Linked DNA regions of Homo sapiens: all the other regions are linked to region 1. The links come from fine-mapping of genetic effects on gene expression. A gene starts in region 1. Each other region holds a variant in brackets. All regions are shown on one strand. Distances are between the middles of the regions. Region 1 holds the start of RETSAT (retinol saturase). Region 2 overlaps TCF7L1 (transcription factor 7 like 1). Region 3 overlaps TCF7L1 (transcription factor 7 like 1). Region 4 overlaps TGOLN2 (trans-golgi network protein 2).

Region 1 (5,283 bases):
TCCTGTCCCAGTCTCCCGAGTAGCTGGAATTACAGGCGTGCGCCACCACACCCTGCTAATTTTTGTATTTTTAGTAGAGATGGGGTTTCACTATGTTGGTTAGGCTGGTCTTGAACTCCTGACCTCGTGATCCGCCTGCCTCGGCCTTCCAAAGTGCTGGGATTACAGGCATGAGCCAACACGCTCGGCCTGTTGACAAAATTTAAGCAGCTGTGAATTTATTCTGAATGAACAACTTGCCTCAGCCAAATGCTTACCTCTTACTACCCAAGCCACAGGATGGCCAAAAGGGGACCACACAGGGGACTGTGAGCTGGATTCTGTGTCCAAAAGGCAGCAGCACCACTAGAAGGGATGGGGTCTGTTTCTGACAATGGAGTTACTGGGACCTGGGCCAGCTTATCAAAGGCGTGAGGCTAAAGGTGTCACCTTGGTGGGTGGTCTTAGCTGAAGTGCTCAGGCTTTGTTTAGGCCTCACACACAGGCTGGGTCAGGGGCTTATAATACTAGACCTGGTTCCAACAATGGTAGAAATTCAAAATGCAACACGATGTTCTAACCTTTCTCAGTTATCAGCAATACTGTGCATGTGGCAGCTGGCTAGCCAGTTTGGGCAATTCTAAGTCTTTCATCTGACATTGCTTCCCTCAGGAAAAGGGCTGGACAAGGCTCATACCTCATCACAGGGGAATTGGACATCCGGAATGTCTGTCACATCAAAAATTGCATCCTAAGTGGGCAGATGGCCCACACACAACTGACAATCATAGTTCACAACTTTGGGTGACTAAGGAAGGAGGGTAGCCTCTCTATGAGGTCAGCCCTCCAGGATGCCATAAAAACTGGCTGCTGGTGTCAGGATGCTTTGATTATTAACACTGAGAGGAAGAATACCTCCTGGCTCTTGGGCTTGACATGTGGCTCACTGTAATCCGGGGGACAGGGCAATGCCCCCTTAGTCCTGGCACCCCAGGAACTAAACTGCTCTCACTGTGGCCTCTGGGGCCTCAACATCTGCCTCCCCTTTCCTTTTCCTCCATCATGGCCTCCATGACAGCCTATGACAAAACACACATTGGCCAGCCTTGGCAAGGTGACAGGCGGGTATGGTAATAGCAATCTCAGGAGGGCTCTTCTGTTGCTGTGTAGAAAATGAACCAAGTAGCATAGAATCGTGACCAGCTTTCCACACCTGGCTGGAGCACTCCTGGGGCCTTCAGTAGGGACAGTTACTATCTGTAGCAGAGAAGAAAAGAGCAACAATTCCATTAAACAAGGAAGTACTCAAAGGCAAATTCCTGATAGTTGGACCTAAGGAAACGGCCTTCCTGTAAAAATGGATCCTTCTCCAATCAAGTATTCATTATGCACCCTCTTTAGGCAAGGAGGGGGTATGATTCTTCAACTGCTTGCTGGAGGTTAGATTCTCTGCATAGGAATTTAAATTAGATGGGCCCTTAGCTGATCCTTTCACCATGCTTGTCCATGGGCGGCTCCCCGTCCCCCAGGTTCCCCACGGATGGGGTGTCATTAGGGACCCGCCATAGAGGACTCCGTCCCAGGCGGGCCCCCAGGACAAAACTATGGGCCACTTTGAGGGGCACAGAGACAGACGCTCACCGGTTGTGATGCGCAGGTAACAGAGAGCTCAATTCATCATGACAACCAGTCAGACAGGGGCTGTGAGCAGCCTTTGGACAGAACTTTCGCATAGCCTGGAGGCGTAAGACGAGGAAAGCAATTTAACACCTCAAGGCAGCGAGTCCAGGGCAGAGCCAGGACCAGAACTCAGGACTCCTGTCTCCCAGTCGGGATTCTCTTTCAGTCTTACAACTCTCGGCCTTGTCTCGCCCCATAGTGATAATTTCCACCGGATCACATTCTCCCTCCCTCCTCAGGCCGGCTGCTAGCTCCGCACAGGCACCAACCACTCCCCTTGGCAAGTGTTAACGCGTTCTCACCGTTAAAAGAGCTTTCCAAACTTGGGGGTCCCGCCGCCTCGGCTAGGCCTCATCTGCTCATGCGCACAGCCGCTTCCGTGCCGGCTCCCCTGGCCCCGAGAACTACATTTCCCAGTAGGCAATGGAAACCCAAAAGAAGTACGGAGAGCCGGGAGGGTCAATCATCACCTGAGAGTTGGCTCTTCGCTGGCTGGCTGGTTAATCAGTGCTCAAAGCTGCCTCCGCCTCCTGACTGGAGAGCGAACTAGCCCGGGCGGAGCCACAGTCCTAGAGGCTGAGCGCAGTCGGAGCTGTCCCATTTACCCGACCCGACGCCGGCGTGATGTGGCTTCCGCTGGTGCTGCTCCTGGCTGTGCTGCTGCTGGCCGTCCTCTGCAAAGTTTACTTGGGACTATTCTCTGGCAGCTCCCCGAATCCTTTCTCCGAAGATGTCAAACGGCCCCCAGCGCCCCTGGTAACTGACAAGGAGGCCAGGAAGAAGGTTCTCAAACAAGGTAGCAGGAGGGACCCTGGGGTCCGGGGCTGCACTCGAGGCTTTCTCACAGATTTGGGTTCTCATTTTGCCAAGGCAGCCGCTACCAGACGTGGGCCTTAGTTTCCCCATATGTAAAGTACTAGGAGGGCTTCCTTGCACGTGGAGGAGCCCCGCTTTAGTGTGCAACACTGTCGATAGCCTTTGCCCTAGTAGGCCCCGGGAATAGTAGTCCCAAGGGTGTGGTCATTGTCCTTGGTTTGCAAGGTGTTGGCACCCGCCCTGCCACTTGTAATCCCCGTGGCTCGTGGAACTGATAATCCCCGTGACTCATTCCTCCACTTGGTTCCAGGACCTTAACTTTTTCACCTACCCTCCCATGCGAGCTCAGGGGTGTGGGGGAGCAGCACAGAAATGCGTAGGAAATTGCGTTTTGCCCGTCCGGTGATTTAACAGGCTTTGCATGGTCCCAAATCGTAAGGATTGAACCCTAGTTCTGAAACATTGGCAGAGGTTCAACAAGGCGCCTCAGGCTCAGAGCCTGCTCTCCACTCTCATCTTTAAAACATATTTTGTGGTTGCTTCTAGAGTTTAAAGAGTTCTGCTGCTTTAAAAAATAATGGATCACCTGTTTGATCTACGGAGTCCCTCTCACTTGTAAATTTTAGAATTCTCCGTGTCATATCTTGCTACACAATCGGAGACAGTACTGTTCTAAGTGGAAGGACTAATCATCTGGACTTCTGAGAACTGAGTTTTAGCTTGGACTCTGTCACTAATTTGCTGCATAACCATTAGCACCTACCTGGGCTGGTCTAAAAATGAGATGACTAGCTTAACTGCTTTTCAAACCGGATTGTGATCTATTAGTGGGCTATGAAATCAATTTAGTGAGTTGCAACTGGCATTATTTATTTATTTATTGAAACAGAGTCTCGCTCTATTGTCCATGCTAGAGTGCAGTGGCGCGATCTCCGCTCACCGCAACTTCCGCCTCCTGGGTTCAAGTGATTATCCTGCCTCAGCCTCCCGAGTAGTGGGCATGCCCAGCTAATTTTTGTATTTTTAGTAGAGACAGGGTTTCACCATGTTGTCAAGGCTCTCGAACTCCTGGCCTCAAGCGATCCGCCCACCTCGGCCTCCCAAAGTGTTGGGATTACAGGCGTGAGCCATCACGCCTGGCCACAACTAGTATTTTAGAATGCAGTAGAATAGAAAATATCAGAGTGCATTATACATAGTTCCACTAAGTATTGCATTGTGACACTTGTTTCATGTATTTATCTTATATACTTACATGTGAAATTTTTTTTTACTATTGATCTCTCTAAAAACATTAAAAAAATAAGCAGTTTGCCAAGTTCTCTTGTATCTTGAAACATCCCAGATCTCAGTTCTTTGCCAGTGATTGTTAAAGAACAGATCTTGTGTCGGAAGTACCCATATAGCACCACTTGCTATCCAGTTTTGTCTTCTGAGAAGGTGCTGCCTCCCTCAGCACTGCCCCCAGACCTTCCCTATGGGAGGGGCTGGTGCTGTGATTTCTCAGAGCTGCAGCCTCTGAGCAGTTCTGTCCTGCCCAAGCCTTTTCATCAGGACCTGGAAGAGCCACCATAAGACCCAGCTATTCCACTATTGCTTGCAGACCCTGCATCTTCCAAAGAAACCCGGCTTGTGGGCTGGTGTGTTGGCTCATGCCTGTAATCCCAGCAATTTGGGAGGCCGAGGTGGGTGGATCACTTGAGGCCAGGAGTTCAAGATCAGCCTGGGCAACATAGCAAGACTTTGGCTCTATAAAACATAAAATAGGCGGGGCGCGGTGGCTCATGCATGTAATCCCAGCACTTTGGGAGGCCGAGGCAGGCGGATCACGAGGTCAGGAGATCGAGACCATCCTGGCTAACATGGTGAAACCCCATCTCTACTAAAAAATATTAAAAAAAAAAATTAGCCGGGCGTGGTGGTGGGCACCTGTAGTCCCAGCTACTCGGGAGGCTGAAGCAGGAGAATGATGTGAACCCAGGAGGCGGAGCTTGCAGTAAGCGGAGATTGCGCCACTGCACTCCAGCCTGGGTGACAGAGTGAGACTCCGTCTTAAAAAATAATTAAACACATAAAAATAAAAATAAAAATAAAATGGCCCGGCATGGTGGCATGCACCTGTAGTCCCAGCTACTCGGGAACCAGAGGCAGGAGGATTGCTTGAGGCCAGGAGTTCAAGGCTGCAGTGAGCTGTGATCACATCACTGCACTTCATCCTGGGCCATAGTGAGACCTTGTCTCAAAAAACAAATAAGCAAAACCCCAAATCTGCCTGGCTGGTTCTGAGTATTCCCAGGTAAAATGTTTGAAACATGTTAGTCAAGAGTTCTGTGCCAAACCACTCTAGAGGTTTCTTGCACTGTACAAGCTAGAGAAGTCTTCTTTGGTTTCCCTATCTTTGCTATTTCCCTGCCCCTGCCTGAGAAACCCACCCTTTGGCCCTTCTGCTGTAGCTTTTTCAGCCAACCAAGTGCCGGAGAAGCTGGATGTGGTGGTAATTGGCAGTGGCTTTGGGGGCCTGGCTGCAGCTGCAATTCTAGCTAAAGCTGGCAAGCGAGTCCTGGTGCTGGAACAACATACCAAGGCAGGGGGCTGCTGTCATACCTTTGGAAAGAATGGCCTTGAATTTGACACAGGTAAGGCTTGTGTGGAAAAGGGTTGGGAGCATGGCTGTATGTTGAAGAGGCTTGGAGCAGCCCTTGTGGGGTGATACTGAGCATTTCTGTTGTTTTGGAAGTGCCATCTTCTCTCTGGGTACTTTTTTTCTTTGTTTGTTTCAGACAGAGTCTCACTTCATCACCCAGGCTG
Region 2 (5,328 bases), 46 kb after region 1:
GTAACTTTAAATGGCTGAAGTATATCTCCATAAAGCTGTTACAAAAAATTAATTGTGGTGCTAGATACTATGGAAAGTATCCAAAAGATGCTTCCTCACATCTTGGCAATTACGAGTCAAATGGGTGATAGAAGCATAAGCTGAATGTCATTCCAGGCGGCAAATTCATTTAAATCAGCTGTGAAAATGATTACCCCCTTTGCAGCTCAGTCATGGACACTGACTGGCCCATGCACATTTGAGACAGGAAGCTGGGTTCAGGTTTTCTAAGGGTGTCAGGCATGCCTAACATTCCCCTGTGGCAAGTGGCAATCTTCCTTTGCATATCTGCGAAAGTCTAACACAGGGTTTGGGAGTGAAACAAACAGGTGGTTTGATTCAACAAAAGCACTAAAGAAACACTCAGAAAAGGTCTTGCAACTGCAATTTTATTTTCTTTTGTGAAAATAAACAACTGGGAGTTTAAATTGCTCCAAAAACCATAAAAACAAAAAGAAATACACACAGAAGAAGCATGTGAGGTGATGGGGAAGGGAACAGGGTCTCTAGAACTTTGGCAGATTGTGCTGGCACGGACCCAGGTGACAGGAGCCAGACCATGGGGCCGGTCCCGCCTGCCACTCTGGGATTGTGAAGGGATGATCGCCACTGGCAAGGACGGGGAGGAACACAGACTTCTTCGCTGAGGAAGTGGCAGGCACCTTGAGTCCCTTTAAATGCGGGGGTTGGGAGGAAACCATTTCAGAGGACCGCTTTCTCCACTGAAAGCTGGGGCTGGCGAGTTCGGGCCCACTGAGGGAGGGGACGCTGGTGGCAGCAAATCAGGCCAAGATGTCTTCTCACATGGTGATGGCCTCACACTGGGCAGAGGACAGAGGACGAAGAAGAACCCACGGTATTGAGCAGACGATGAAAACTTGGGCTGGGTAACAGGAAATGTCACAATGGCAGAGCTGCAGATGGAGTCGGGGAAGCTGGGGCAGGCGGCAGGGGCGAGAAGAGACAGGAGACAGAAAGTGCAAGAGAGGTAAGAGAGAGAAGTGCCCTCTGCCCAGGTCCATCCACCACAGCACCTACAGGACGAATAGCACGCTACTTTTCAGTTCTCTTTCTTATAAAGATTTTTTTTTGTTGTTTTGTTTTGTTTTTTAAAAAAGCCTTAAGATCAGCTACTGGTTACATCTACAAACTGTAAAGTGCTGTTGTTACCAGCCACTTTACAGAACAGTCCAGAGTGGTCAAATATTGACCAATAAAGTCTCCTTTTTCTTTTTCTTCTGAATCATTACTACTCAATGAGTCATGTGACAGCCTGCAGGGGTCGGGGGGAGCTTAGTGGGCAGACTTGGTGACCAGGGAAAGAGGCTGGGCCTGTAGCACCGGGAGGGCCTGGTGGGCATGGAGCGTGGCGGGGAAGGACGGGGGAGAGGCCAGCAGAGCTGTGGGCATGGACCCAAGGGGGAGGGGCCGGGACAGGAGGGGAGGCTGGCTGCCCATCTGCCCAGAGGAGGAGGCTGCAGCCTTAGCCGACAGGAAGGCGGCAGAGTGGAGAGCCAGCTGGGCCCGGGTTTCTGGTTTGGTGGTGAGGGAGAGGGGCTGGGCTTGCTCCGAATGGGTGGCAGCAGGGGCAGCTGGTGAGGCCAAAGCTGCAGAGGGAGTGGCCGGGGAGTCCAGCATGCTCCCGTGGGAGGAGGCAGGGCTGTCACAGGGCTTCTCGGGGGGCAGGTACTGAACACATGGCTTCTTGCTCTTGGAGGCCAGGGCACCTAGGGGGAAAATACAAGAAAGAGTGAGCAGCTATAGCTCTGTGAGAGGAGGAGGCTGAGGAACAGCCCTGGCGATACATGTGCTTTGGAGACACAGGGATGATTTTGGCGAGGACCTGACATTACTTCCAAGGCTTTCAAGACTAGGAAACTGCATTCACAAATACCCAGAGCACAGAGAAGAGGCAACGCCCAAACTGATGAAGATCCACCCAGCATCAGATCGGAGAGAAGACGGCTCAGTGTCTCACAGGACCACCCTCCTTTCCTAAAGCTGGTAACTTTTGGGATGAATCTCCAGTTTGCTTTGAAATCTTTGGTTTATGGTATTAATACAGTCAGAGAGAGTGCATGCCTGCTGAACAGCGTGCCAGACAGCGGGTTCTGTAGCAGGTACGGGTTCCACTCATGTGCGCTCCTATGTATAATGGAAGGAAGGAAGGAAGGGAGGAGGGGAGGCAAGGAAATAGGGAGGGAGGGAAGGAGAAAGGGAGGGCGGAAGGAGAAAGCGAGGGAAGAAGAAAGGGAGGGGGGGAAGGGAGGGAAGGAGGGGGAGAGGGAGGGAAAGAGAGGGAGGGAAAGAGAAAGGGAGGGAGAAAAGGAGGGAGGGAAGGGGAAAGGGAGGGAAGGAGAATGGGAGGGAAGGTGAAAGGGAGGGAGGAAGAAAGGGAGGGAGGGAGGAATGAAGAAGAGAGATTGAAAGCACTTTACATCGTGCAAGCAGCGATACACTTGTCCTGGAGTGAGCATGAGATGGGGGGCGTGACCTAAATATTAATAATAATCGTCACAGTGTGAGCATCTTTCTGTGCTAGGCATGATTCTGGTAAT[A/G]TAGAGATTTTATACATGGTTTTGACACAAAGTGCCTCCTAAACCCAAGCAAACTAATTTTTTCTGGTGTTCAACCAAAGAAACATCCAAGGAAACCCGGGCTCCCCTGGATCCACTGACAGGTGGGATGTCAGGGGCTCATGTGCTGCCTTCCTAAGGGTATTTCAAAGACAATTTCAACCTCATTCCATTAACCCTCAGGTAGGATGATTCACTTTTCAATGGAATTAGATTGTCTAGGCTTTGAAGTGACAAAGTCCTGGGATCAAATCCTACCACCACCACTGAAGCAGAGTGCCTGGGAAAATGCCTTCACATCTCAGAGCCTCTTAAGTGGCCACCTCGAGAAAGGGGTAATAATACCCGCCCGCGAATACCGAGGCAGAAGCCCTGACCCATCAGGGAGCTAGAGACAGCATGGGCAGGTGTGGCTGTGACAAAAGGAAAAGCAGGAGAAGAGGCCAGTGCCCCGAGACGCACCCTCTGCCTCCTGGACTTGCTGCTGTGACTGTGTCTGGGACAGCTGCTTTTCTCTCTTCCTCTTCTTTTTCTTACCCTGGAAAATACAGCCAAAGGAAGAGGTAAGCTGGGAGAGAAGAATGCTGGCTTCTCAGGGGCTCCCAGATCAGAGAGAAGACAGGACGTTGCCCTTTACTGCTCTCGATCCCTCAGGGAGAGTGTGGAGAGATAATTCAGATCACAGCCGTGGGAGCCCGTGAGGAGGCAGAGGGAGCCCTTCCTCCCCTACAAACGCGTTTCCCCTCCAGGTCGGGTGTCCAGGCCTTCTTGGAAGGCCTCCTCCCTCCACTGCCCTTCAGACTCTGTTTTTCTGTTTCTCTCCCTAGAACAGTGCTTCTAGATCTTTTCTGAGGGGTCCCAGGTCCCTTTGAAAGTTTGATGCAACTGTGGGTCCTCTTACCAGAAAAAAAGCAAAGAAGAACACGCATGCGAAAATTGGCTTGGTTTCCGGGAGCTTAGAGACACGCCCCCTGAGGCTCACACACTGGTCTTTGAGCCCTGGGTTAGGAGTGGCTGGAGACAACTCTTCCTACCACAGCTAACCCCGTGCCCTGTGTTATGAAATCGAGGGCAGAGTCCAGTTCAAAGGGAAATGCATCAACTGAAGTCCGTCCTCAGGACTTGTTGACCTCCTGAGAATTAAAACACCTTCCTTATTTCTAGAGAAGTATGGGCTTCTCCCTGATCTTAAGAGTCCTCTATAAATGCAGTCGCTGGCCGGGCGCGGTGGCTCACGCCTGTAATCCCAGCGCTTTGGGAGGCCGAGGTGGGCGGATCACGAGGTCAGGAGCTCGAGACCATCCTGGTTAACACAGTGAAACCCCGTCTCTACTAAAAATACAAAAAATTAGCCGGGTGTGGTGGCAGGTGCCTGTAGTCCCAGCTACTCGGGAGGCTGAGACAGGAGAATGGTGTGAACCGGGGAGGCGGAGCTTGCAGTGAGCCGAGATCGCGCCACTGCATGCACTCCAGCCTGGGTGACAGGGTGAGCCTCTGTCTCAAAAAATAAAAGAAAATAAAATAAATAAAAATAAATGCAGTTGCTTTCCTTCACCCTTCCTCCTCTTGCAGAGGCTGTTCCTGGGGTCTGAGCGTCCTCTGCCCAGAGTGTGCACTTACATAGTTGTCCCGGGCTGACCAGGTTGGGTAGAGCTGCGAGTGAAGCTGCCGCTCCTTCCGGGCCAGCTCGTAGTACTTGGCCTGTTCTTCTCGAGACAGGTTGTGCCACTGGGGGAGAGAGGGTCAGAGACCACACGGAGCCATCAATGCAGGGACGCTGCCTCCCTGGCCTGGAGGGAGAGGGCAGGTCTTACCTTTCTTCCAAGGATCTGGTTAATGGCTGCACTTTCCTTCAGGGTGCACTCAGCCACCACCTTGGCCCTCATCTCCTTCATATACAACATGAAGGCATTCAGAGGCTTCTTCACGTGGGGCTTCTTTTCCTCCTCCTTTTTCACGGTGACTGGTGATTTCCTGGGAAGGCACGTGGTTGTAGGTTAGCATGTCAGGTGTCACACAACTCATCAATCCCCACCTGTCACTGAAACACCGCTGATTGTCTCTGGGGAGGGGCGCGGGCTGCCTGGATGCTAATTCAAGTGGCCCCATGGCTGCACTCAACACCTGAGTACCTTCCTCCCGTAGTTTCCCACCTTTGAACGATCTCCACGCCAGATTCTTTGAAAATCTACTCTCCAATTTCCTGACAGAGGAACAGAGCATGGTGGGGTTGCTGAGATGAGCTCTCACTGGAGCTGGCAGGTGCTGGCGGCGGTGACAGGACACAGTGTGGGGCACTCTGGGCAGAACCAAGTTGGGAGGGGGTTCTCTTGGGATCTCCAGGGAGCACTGACTTTGGCTTCCTGCCATCTTTATGGTACACGGGCAAGGTAAGGACCCTGGTGCTCATCTCAGCTCGGCCACCAGCCCACCACAAGTCCTTAAGAAAACACTGTCTCCTTTCTGGGCCTCACCTTTTCATATATCTTACGGTGGGGTGTTAAAAGCTTTCTCAGGTTCTCTTTCAGCCTCTGAGACCTGACAGTAAAACTTTCCTTAATAAGAGAGAAGATGCACCATGTCCCTGAAAGGACAGGGACCCAGAAGGTCAGAGGGAGTAAGTCCCGAGGAAGAGGGAGGGCCTGGCTGGGGAGGCTGTGATGCCTGCTGAGTGACACCAAGAGAGAAGAGTACATGACATTTGCTGCTCAGA
Region 3 (5,191 bases), 60 kb after region 1:
AGTAGGACAGGATTTGTCATTCTTGGGATAAGCCTTTCCTTACCCAAACTCTTCTTTTCCCACTGTTTGCTGGCATTAAGGGTGGCAAAAGACAGCCCTAAGGTTACCTTTATTTTTGTTCCTTTGGCATTTGCCTTTTTTTCTCTTCTGCATGGGTGCTTGAAGGAAAACATTTCTAAACCCTTGCAATTTGAACTGTTTTTAGGATATGTCTAGGTGAATGTCAATTTTCATTGAGTTTTATAGAATTCAAAGGAGCTCTTTCAATCCATAAATTCAAGTTTTTGTTTTTAGAGCCCATTTTAACTTTCTTAATTGCCTCTTTTCCTTCAGTTTGGTCTCTTCTTTAGAAACACTATTTGTAGAATGGTTTTTAATTTTTTTTCTCTGTATCTATCAGCGACTTTCTCATCACAGTTACAAATGGCACAAATGTGACTTGCCACAATGTCAACTCCAGTCTATACAAAGACGAATGGGCTGGGAGACATGAGTAAGAATTTCAAAGACGCTGAAGCTCAACAGCAGAAATGAACAGAAGGAACGATGCAGGTGGAAAACCATCACTGCCTGCTAAAACTAGTGGGTGAAAAATTGATGAGAAATAGGGCATTGGCATAGCCTTGGAGCCTCTCCCTACAAAACACTTATTAATTACAAAGGGAAAAATTGTTACCCTAGGGTGGAAACGTTTGTCAGATACCACCTAATCCAAACAGTTGATGCTAACATCACTAATACTGGGACAAAGGCAGACTGTAGGGCTACCTCCTGAAATGAGGTAACGAGGATGCAACTTTAGTGCAGTGACATTCTGGCCAAAAATGCACAATCTGAATCTAACCATGACGAAACATCAGACAAACCCAAACTAAGGGACATTCTACAAAACAGCTGGCCTGTACTTCTCAAAAAATGTGAAGGTCAAGAAAGACAAAGACAGGCTAAGGACCTCTGCTGGATTCGAGGGAACTAAAGAGACATGAGGGCTACATGTAATCCATGATGCCAGGTGGAACCTGGGACCAGGAGAAACACATGGGCTATCATGGACATTATTGGGACACGGCCAAAAGTTCAATCTATATTGTGAGTAAGATAATGACATGAAAAGTTAATGTTACTGGCTGGGTATGATGGCTCAAGCCTATGGTCCCAGCATTTTGGGAGGCCGAGGCAGGTGGATCATTTGAGGTCAGGAGTTTGAGACCAGCCTGGCCAACATGGCGAAATCCTGTGTCAACTAAAAATACAAAAATTAGCTGGGCGTGGTGGTGGGCACCTGTAATCCCAGCTACTCAGGAGGCTGAGGCAGGAGAATCACTTGAACCCAGGAGGCGGAGGCTGCAGTGAGCCGAGATCGTGCCGCTGCACTCCAGCCTGGGCGACAGAACGAGACGGTCTCAAAAAAAAAAAAAAAAAAAAAAGTAAATGTTACTTTCTTCATTTTGAGGACTGTACTGTGATTATTTAAGAGAATGCCTTTGTTCTTAGATAATATAGCTAAAATATTTAAGGGTAAAGGGTCACAATGTTTCCAAGTTACTCTCAAACTTTTCAGAAAAGAAAAAACAGAGAGAGAGAGAGAGAAAGAGAAGCACAAAGCCCAGGGGAAAAATGTGTGAATCTGGATAAAGGTTATATGGGAGTTCCTTGTATTATTCTTGAAACTTTTCTGGGAGTTAAAATAATACCCAAAAGTGGCCAGGCACGGTGGCTCATGCCTGTAATCCCAGCACTTTGGGAGGCCGAGGCGGGCAGATCACCTGAGGTCGGGAGTTCGAGACCAGCCTGACCAACATGGAGAAACCCTGTTTCTACTAAAAATACAAAATTAGCCGGGCATGCGGGCACATGCCTGTAATCCCAGCTACTAGGGAGGCTGAGACAGGAGAATCGCTTGAACCTGGGAGGCAAAGGTTGCGGTGAGCCAAGATCGCGTCATTGCACTCCAGCCTGGGTGACAAGAGCAATACTCCGTCTCAAAAAACAAAACAAAGCAAAACAAAACAAAAGTTATTACTGTGTATTAAGAATTACAATCAGTATTGAGGGTAGTACAGAGCACCAACAGGATATGCTATGGGTTTTGGAGTTTTCTGCATCTACACAGGTATACTGGTAAGAAGATGGAGAAGTTATGTAGAATTTTATTTAAAAAAATTTTTTTTTTCAGACAGGGTCTCAGTCACCCAGGCTGGAGTGCAGTGGCCTGATCATGGCTCACTGCAGCTTCAACTTCCTGGGCTCAAGCAATCCTCCTACCTCAGCCTCCCGAGTAGCTGGGACTGCAGGTATGTGCCACCATGCCCGGCTAATTTTTTTTATTTTTAGTAAAGGTGAGGTCGCACTATGTTGCCCAGGCTGGTCCCGAACTCCTGAGCTCAAGTGATCCTCCCACCTCAGATTCCCAAAGTGCTGGGATTACAGGTGTGAGTCACCGTGCCTGGCTGTATGTACAGTTGTAAAAGGGAAATTCCAATGAATATTTTTGAGAATTGGCATGTTAAGCAGCGTCAGGTTTCTCAGCTCAAAGCTGGGGCAGAGCTATTGATGTTCTTTCAGAGAGCATCCAGCACTGGCTCAGCAATCAATAATTTGACATGAAACTCTCCAGTTTGCTTCTGAGAGTGACCCAATTTGCAATGCTAAAACTGGGTGTTTACCATTACTAGTGCAGACAATGTCCCTATGCCAGTGGTTCTCAAAGCTCAGTCCCCAGACCAGCAGCATAAGCATCACCTGGAAACTTGTTAGAATGCAAATTCTCAGGCTCGACCTACCGCGACCCACTGAATCAAACTCTGCAAAGTGTGATTCACCCAGAGTTGAAATCATCCAGAGAGCTTTTAAAATTCCCAATGCTCGGCCAGGCGTGGTGGCTCACGCCTGTAATCCCAGCACTTTGGGAGGCCGAGGCGGGCACGTCACAAGGTCAGGAGATCGAGACTGTCCTGGCTAACATGGTGAAACCCCGTCTTTACTAAAAACACAAAAAATTAGCCGGGCGTGGTGGCGGGTGCCTGTAGTCCCAGCTACTCAGGAGGCTGAGGCAGGCGAATGGCGTGAATCCGGGAAGTGGAGCTTGCAGTGAGCCAAGAT[C/T]GTGCCACTGCACTCCAGCCTGGGCGACAGAGGGAGACCCCATCTCAAAAAAAAAAAAAAAAAAAAAAAAAAAATCCCAGTGTTCAGGCCACACCTAAATTCCATCAGAAACTCTAGGGGTGGGGTTCAGCAATCTTTGTTTTAACAAGTTCCCCAGATGACTCCGATGCCTGCTCAAGAGACCCACCAACCGGATGATAAGGAAGATGCTGCCAGTGTCTAAACAGTATTGGTAGGGTCCTTCTAATACTGAGAAGACGACAACCAAGAGAAATTCTAATTTTGATCCTACTGAAGATGCTAAACTCTGACAGGAAGTACTTGGACACGAGACTGTTAACACTTGCAATAATTTATTTCTGTTTAGAGTATGTTCTACATTCTTGAATCTCAAATGCTAAACAAGATCAATAGGTCAGGATGTAGCCATGTGTTTGCTTTTACTATTTATTTATAATTCTCTTTCCTTCCCTTGCCCCATCAGTATTAGACTTGCCCCTACGTATTAGTCTGTTCTTGCATTGCTATAAAGAAATACCTGAGACTGGGTAATTTATAAAGAAAAGAGGTTTAATTGGCTCACAGTTAAGCAGGCTGTACAGAAAGCATGATGCTGGCACCTGCTCGGCTCCTGGGGAGGCCTCAGGAAACTTTTAATCATGGAGAAAGGTGAAGGGAAGCAGGCGCATCTTACTTGGTGGAGGAGGAACAAGACAGAAAGAGTGGGGGGAGGTCCTGCACACTTTTAAATGACCAGATCTTATAAAAACTTGCTCGCCATCACAAGAATGGCACCAGGAGATGGTGCTAAACCATTCATGAAGGACCACTCCCGTGATTCAGTCACCTTCCACCAGGCCCTACCTCTAACATTGGGGATTACAGTTAGACACAAGATTTGGGTGGGGATACAGATCCACACCATATCACCTTATGACTTGCTCTGACCAATGGAATATTAGTGGACATGAAATGAAGTGAAAGGAAGCTTTCAATCTGCTTCCCTTCTTTTGTATCTGCCACATGCCATGAGAAGGACATGACCTGGATAGCCACTGGTCCTGGGATAAGAGCCATGTGGAGAAGACCTGAACCTCCCCCTTAACAAGCTAAAACAGCCACTCCAAGTGACCCACAGGTCCATCAGTGGAAAAAGAAATGTTTACTAATGTAAGCCACTGAATTGTTTGTTACACAGCATTATGAAAGAAATAGTTGACTTGGGCTGGGTGTGGTGGCTCATGCCTGTATTCCCAGCACTTTGGGAGGCTAAGGCAGCCAGATTGGGTGAGCCCAGGAGTTTGAGACCAGCCTGGCAAACATGCCGAAACCCCGTCTCTATAAGAAATACAAAAAATTAGCTGGGCATGATGGTGCACACCTGTGGTTCCAGCTACTTGGGAGGCTGAGGTGGGAGGATCACTTGAGCCCAGGAGGTGGAGGTTGAAGTGAGCCAAGATTGTGCCACTGCACTCCAGCCTGGGTGACAGAGCAAGACCCTGTCTTAAAAAACAAAAAGAGAGAAATAGCTAACTTAAGACATAAAGTCTACAAAAATATTTTTTGAGAAATACAGAAAAGTATAAAGAATGATACCACACCCAAAACCTGCCATGTGGGATTGTTTTTATAGCTTTTAAATTTTGTTCTTTTTTTCTTAAATAAAACATCACAGAAAGTTAAATCCTCTTAAACACTCCACCAGTCTTATGCTCCTCCCCACTTCCCAAAGGCAGCTACCATTGAAATGTTCCCATTCTCCCTTAAAAATACATATGACCGGCCGGGCGCGGTGGCTCACGCCTGTAATCCCAGCACTTTGGGAGGCCGAGGCGGGCGGATCACGAGGTCAGGAGATCGAGACCATCCCGGCTAAAACGGTGAAACCCCGTCTCTACTAAAAATACAAAAAATTAGCCGGGCGTAGTGGCGGGCGCCTGTAGTCCCAGCTACTTGGGAGGCTGAGGCGGGAGAATGGCGTGAACCCGGGAGGCGGAGCTTGCAGTGAGCCGAGATCGTGCCACTGCACTCCAGCCTGGGCGACAGAGCGAGACTCCGTCTCAAAAAAAAAAAAAAAAAAAAAAAAAAA
Region 4 (5,328 bases), 31 kb after region 1:
CAGGAGGCTGAAGTGGGAGGATGGCTTGACTGTGGGAGGTCGAGGCTTCAGTGAGCCATGATCACGCCATTGCACTCCAGCCCGGGTGACAGAGTGAGACCTTGCCTCTAAGAAAAAAAAAAAGTGTATTTCTTATTCTATGTCCAAGTGTCCATTATGCAGGGTAACCTTAGTCATGAAATGAGATTGATAAAGAATGTAGTTGATGTAGCATCGTGGGGTGAAAAAGTACATTTGTAGATAGGAAATTCTGATTATGACTTTTTTTAAAGGAATGTCCTATATCCTAGATATCTCTAGGAAGGAGTTGATAGATCTTTGACTGTGTACCTTTGAATAAATCAAACAGACTTCCTCCCACACGCTAGAGCTCAGACAGCCTTCTATTTGTTATTTCCTATTAAGCAATACAAAGGATTCTGATGTAATTAGGCTCTGTCTTTCTTAAAATGGTTATAGTTTAAATAGACCTCTGTGAGTGTACTGCTCTTTCTACAGTCAGGGTCATTAACAAATATGCTACCAGGTGACTGCCTCTGAGTTCAGAGACTGAACTATGTCATTACAGAGCCACCTGTTAATCATTTTCTTTTTCCTTTCCTCAGATCATTGCTTTTGTCCTGGAAGGAAAAAGATCTAAAGTCACCCGGCGGCCAAAGGCCAGTGACTACCAACGTTTGGACCAGAAGGTAAGGAAGGAGGAGCCAGGTCCATGGGAGGGATAGGAGGGATAGGCAACGTCAGATGGACCCAGTAGTGGGCTTGCATTTGCCATGAAGCAGCAGTGGCTGATTCTGGGGATGCGGTTGCTGTTGCTGTTGCATTCGCCCTTTTTAGACAACAAACTAGAAACATCTAGATACACATATCTGTGACGTTAGAGCTAGCAGAGACCTTGGAATACTCTACAGCAGCTACCTCCCTTCACAGATGAGGAAATAGGCCCACGCAGAAACACTCTTTTTTTTTTTTTTCCGCTAAGTTTCTACTGCAAGTTAGTGGCAAACTCAGGACCTGATAGCAACTCCCTAGTCTCCCAGTCCTGAGCTTTCTGCATTCTGCCAGCGCTCCATAAACTTTAATAGGCATTTGAATCACCTTGGGGAATTTTGATAAAAAGCATTATCTGATTCATTAGATGTGGGGTGGAGCCTATATTTCTACATTCTTTTTTTTTTTTTTGGAGATGGAGTTTTGCTCTTGTTGCCCAGGCTGGAGTACAATGGTGCAATCTCGGCTCACTACAACCTCTGCTGCCTGGGTTCAAGCGATTCTTCTGCCTCAGCCTCCCGAGTAGCTAGGATTACAGGCGCCACCACCACGTCCAGCTAATTTTGTATTTTTAGTAGAGATGGGTTTCTCCATGTTGGTCAGGCTGGTCTCGAACTCCCAACCTCAGGTGATCCGCCCGCCTCGACCTCCCAAAGTGCTGAGATTACAGGCATAAGCCACCGTGCCTGGCCTGTGTCTACATTCTTAGGAAGTTCCCAGGTGAAACCAAATGCCACTGGATCCACACTTTGTGTGGTAAAGTGCTAGACTGTGCTCCCTGGAAACACGAGCCTGGAAGCACATAGGCCTCCAACTCCCCACATCAGCCTGGCTTAAGCACCGTAGGCTGGAGTTCCTGAGTACAGCCAATCCATTCCTCTGTCAGACAGATAAGCCCTCCTTCCACCCCATGGCAGCAGAGCTAAGCAAGGGTCTCTCTAAAGACAACCTGTCTAAGCAGGAAGACTGTACTCTCACTGCGTTGCTACCAGCATGCACCCTTCCTTCTGCTTTCAGCATAGCAACAGCCAGGACATTGGCAAAGAACCATTGGTGGCCCAACTATGAATTGTTCCCAGACTTCCTGCAGGGAACACGATTCTCTTGCACAACTCAATATTAGCTACAGAACGAGCCACTGAGCTCAGAATATCTTTGCTAACTAGTCCAGTAGGCTAGCTTTACAATTTAGCTCTGGACTACTGCCTTTTCAGATAATTGACTTTAAGGGTTTTCCCCCTTTTATGATTTTTGTTTGTTTGTTTTTGAGACGGAGTCTTGCTGTGTCGTCCAGGCTGGAGTGCAGTGGCACAATCTTGGCTCACTGCAACCTCCACCACCCGGGTTCAAGCAGTTCTCCCTCTTCAGCCTCCCGAGTAGGTGGGATTACAGGCGCCCACCACCACGCCCAGCTAATTTTTAGATTTTTAGTAGAGATGGGGTTTCACCCTTTTGGCCAGGCTGGTCTTGAACTGCTGACCTCAAATGATCCACCCACCTCAGCCTCCCAGAGTGCTGGGATTACAGGCGTGAGCCACCACACATGGCTTATGATTTTTAAAAAAATACACATGTGGCTGGGCATAGTGGTTCACGCCTGTAATCCCAACAGTTTGGGAGGCAGATCACCTGAGGTCAGGAGTTCTAGATCAGTCTGGCCAACATGGTGAAATACCATCTCTACTAAAAATACAAAAATTAGCTGGGCATGGTAATCCCAGCTACTACTGAGGAAGCCGAGGTGGGAGAATCGCTTGAACTTCGGAGGCAGAGGTTGCAGTGAGCCAAGATCATGCCACTGCACTCCAGCCTGGGCAACAGAGCAAGACTCCGTCTCAAAAAAGAAGAAAACCACCACCAACAAAAAACACATGTAAATAATTCACAACAGTACAGAACAGTATGAAGCAGAAGCCAGGATTCCTCTCTCTCCATCAAGTGTATATCTTTCTAGTGTTAGGTTTCATTTCAAACTTTAAAAATCATTTTGTGTGCTATTTTAATTAATTGCTGTTTCTGTGGTGGTGGGTCAGTATGTCTTAATTCTGAATGTTTTCCCTGCACCTCCTAAAAGATCTTTT[T/C]TCCCCTAAGTCCTAACAGAATGGTATATTCCTCTGGAAAAAGATGAACGTCACCAATGGATTGTGCTGCTCTCGTTTCAGCTTTGATTTTTTTGTCCTTGAGAACCTTGTCCTCCCTGCTGATTTGTTTCTAAATCAAAAGAAATGAAGAAAAAAGTACTGTGACCTGAGAGACACCCTCCTCTAGAATTTAGTGGCGGGTCTGGGCTGGCAGAGGTAGGGGGCTGCTTTGGGCTTTGCACCTGCACTTTGGTGACATTGTTCTTCTGTGTTCCCTTTATTTATGCTGGTGGCTTCCATCCGTTCCTCCTCTGAGGGTGAGTGGAGGGGTATATGGAAACACGGCTATGACCAAAGGGAGATCCCAGCCTGGGCAGGCTGCGCTGCTGACCACCCTCCCTGGGGCCCGGGCTCTGTAGGAAAGTTGGTCCTTGACTGTGGCATTGCACTCTGCACTGTTTCTCTCTGCAGACCTAGGGGAAAACTGCAGGTGGAAGTGCTTTTCTACTAAGGCCTCTTACTTTGGGGGGGATGTGCCCTACAGAAGACATAGAAGATGGGGAAATGCCAATGGGCAAAGAGCTACTTTGAATACATAATTCTCTTCAAAGACTTCAGCAGCAAACCAAAACAGCAGGTTAAAAAAAAAGATGCTTTTTTGGGTGCAAGTCTAACCTGTCTAGCATGAGATCTTCTTGATTTTCTGATTATTTTATGTAGCTTGAGACAAAGTGAATCAACTTCCACTTAGTTGTACCGAGCATAAAACAGAACTTGGGCTTCCTGGCAGTGAGGCCACTGTCCCATCACAGATTTTTAAAATAAATATGATTTGAAGTAGTGTGATCTTTCACACAATCATACTCAGTAGGAACTTTTTGAAATAGGGCAAGTTTATGTTTCATGCGAGAAAACATGAAGGAGGGTTTTGGTTTTGGTCTGCAGTTTTTCCAAAGGGCTTTTATGAGATACATTTCCCACAAAGTCCATTTTGCCTTTGTTGCCTAAAACAGACAAAATAGACTTAGATTTATTAATAGAAACTATACTCTCTGCCAATTTTACCTCAGTGTATTTAATGGTCCTTTAATCTGATATAAGATGCCAAGGGTATTTGATAAAAATTCTTCTTCCATGCCATGTCAGGAGTTAATACAAATGAAGAAATTCCGTGGGTTCCCCTGGGATAAGTGAGGGTAGTGTCTTGGACAACACTATTGTTTGAAGGTTTATCTTTTCTAATCATGCTCTACCGCATTGTAGAGAGCCTAAAGAGAGTTGTTTCTGAGCTGATCTCAGGGAAATACAAATAACTTGGGAGATGAGGGAAATAAGATGAATTCTGTGCTGTCAAGGCAGTAAGTCTGAAGAAAGGACCATGCTTCTTATATTATCTTCCACCTTGCTTAAAACAGCCCATAGCTTTGAGTTGACATTTTCATTCTTGGCGGATAGCCTACTTTATGAAGGTAAGGAATGAACTCCTACCCTTCTTGGGTCATTCTCTGTACTGATGCGTTAGTCTTATAATACTTTGCACCAACCTGAGGAATCTTCTAGGCTTCTCTAGCATCCCCTAAGACTGTGGCTATTTCACGTCTCTCTCCCTGCCTGCCTTCCTTTTCCCTTCCTTTCCCCTCCTCATGTTTTCTGGTTGTGCCCATCTGTACCAGCTCCTTTCCATCCACCTTCGTATGCACCCAGATTTTTCTGTTCCCATCTGTCCTATTTGTTATTCATCCCGCTGCTCAACTTCTCCAGTATGTTGCTTCCCTTAAGTTGCCATTCATTCTCTTCATGACTTTTACTAACTCACTTCGGTCTCTGTCTGTCAACTAAACTTTTCTAAAGGTTACCAGTTATCCAATCACCAAATCCATGGCTTTTTCTCAAAGCTTAGTCTTGTCCTTGGCAGAACTGGACACTATTGACCATCCAAATGGAAATTCCCCTTTCTTGGTGTCTCTGACAAATGGTCCTTTGCCTTATCTTGTGCTGGTGGTGAAGAGGCCCTCAAAGCCAGGCCTCTCTATTCCTTTGACTGTCTCCTCAGCCATTAACCCATTCTTCATCCTCGGAGTGAGTGATTCCCAAGTCTTTGTCTTGGCTTAATCCCTAAAGAACCCAGTTCTGCTGGTATCGAATAGTTCAGCTTGGTTGTCATTGAAAGGAATTTCTCTCTTCTGTCCATCAGCCTGTCCCTCCCAACTGTCTAGGACAGTCTTCGGTCACCTAAATTCCTAACTGCAGACTTTTGCCCTTTTTCTCTCTCATCACCAAAGTCCCATCCATTTTTTTTTAATAAAAGATCCTCAGCTACAGTCTTTCCATTTTCCTTGCTTCTCTTATTGCACACCCCCAGCCCATTTTGCTTCTCTCTTGGATTTTGTTTTTTCAGATCCACATTTATTGGGTTTCCTGTCCAGCTTCTTGGAAAGGAGCTCACTCTTGGAAAGACTGATCTTTCCAAAATATT

What was found. PIP is the estimated chance that this variant, and not a neighbour inherited with it, causes the effect.
Region 2: its variant is fine-mapped to the expression of RETSAT in whole blood (TOPMed, PIP above 0.99).
Region 3: its variant is fine-mapped to the expression of RETSAT in whole blood (TOPMed, PIP above 0.99).
Region 4: its variant is fine-mapped to the expression of RETSAT in whole blood (INTERVAL, PIP 0.95).

Annotation. Positions count from the first base shown.
Region 1 is chr2:85,351,508-85,356,790 of GRCh38, reverse strand. RETSAT (retinol saturase) reads left to right here and starts at 2,263. Exons shown (of 11, transcript NM_017750.4): 1 at 2,263-2,455; 2 at 4,929-5,111. The coding sequence starts at 2,284. ELMOD3 (ELMO domain containing 3) reads right to left here and starts at 2,022. Exons shown (of 14, transcript NM_001135022.2): 1 at 1,962-2,022; 2 at 1,621-1,715; 3 at 1,193-1,236. RefSeq lists enhancers at 1,566-1,625, 1,260-1,759, 1,796-2,195, 1,760-2,261.
Region 2 is chr2:85,305,467-85,310,794 of GRCh38, reverse strand. It overlaps TCF7L1 (transcription factor 7 like 1), which reads right to left. Exons shown (of 12, transcript NM_031283.3): 9 at 4,430-4,589; 10 at 4,236-4,343; 11 at 3,078-3,153; 12 at 408-1,766. The coding sequence ends at 1,333. Among named protein-coding and RNA genes, the nearest start is that of TGOLN2, 20 kb to the left of the region's middle. RefSeq lists enhancers at 276-1,159, 4,082-4,582. The variant A/G (reference allele first, on the strand shown) is at 2,598.
Region 3 is chr2:85,292,012-85,297,202 of GRCh38, reverse strand. The region is part of intron 4 of TCF7L1 (transcription factor 7 like 1); the gene reads right to left. Among named protein-coding and RNA genes, the nearest start is that of TGOLN2, 33 kb to the left of the region's middle. RefSeq lists an enhancer at 2,153-2,824. The variant C/T (reference allele first, on the strand shown) is at 3,103.
Region 4 is chr2:85,320,276-85,325,603 of GRCh38, reverse strand. TGOLN2 (trans-golgi network protein 2) reads left to right here. Exons shown (of 4, transcript NM_006464.4): 3 at 606-689; 4 at 2,863-5,328. The coding sequence ends at 2,868. Among named protein-coding and RNA genes, the nearest start is that of TGOLN2, 5.0 kb to the left of the region's middle. The variant T/C (reference allele first, on the strand shown) is at 2,853.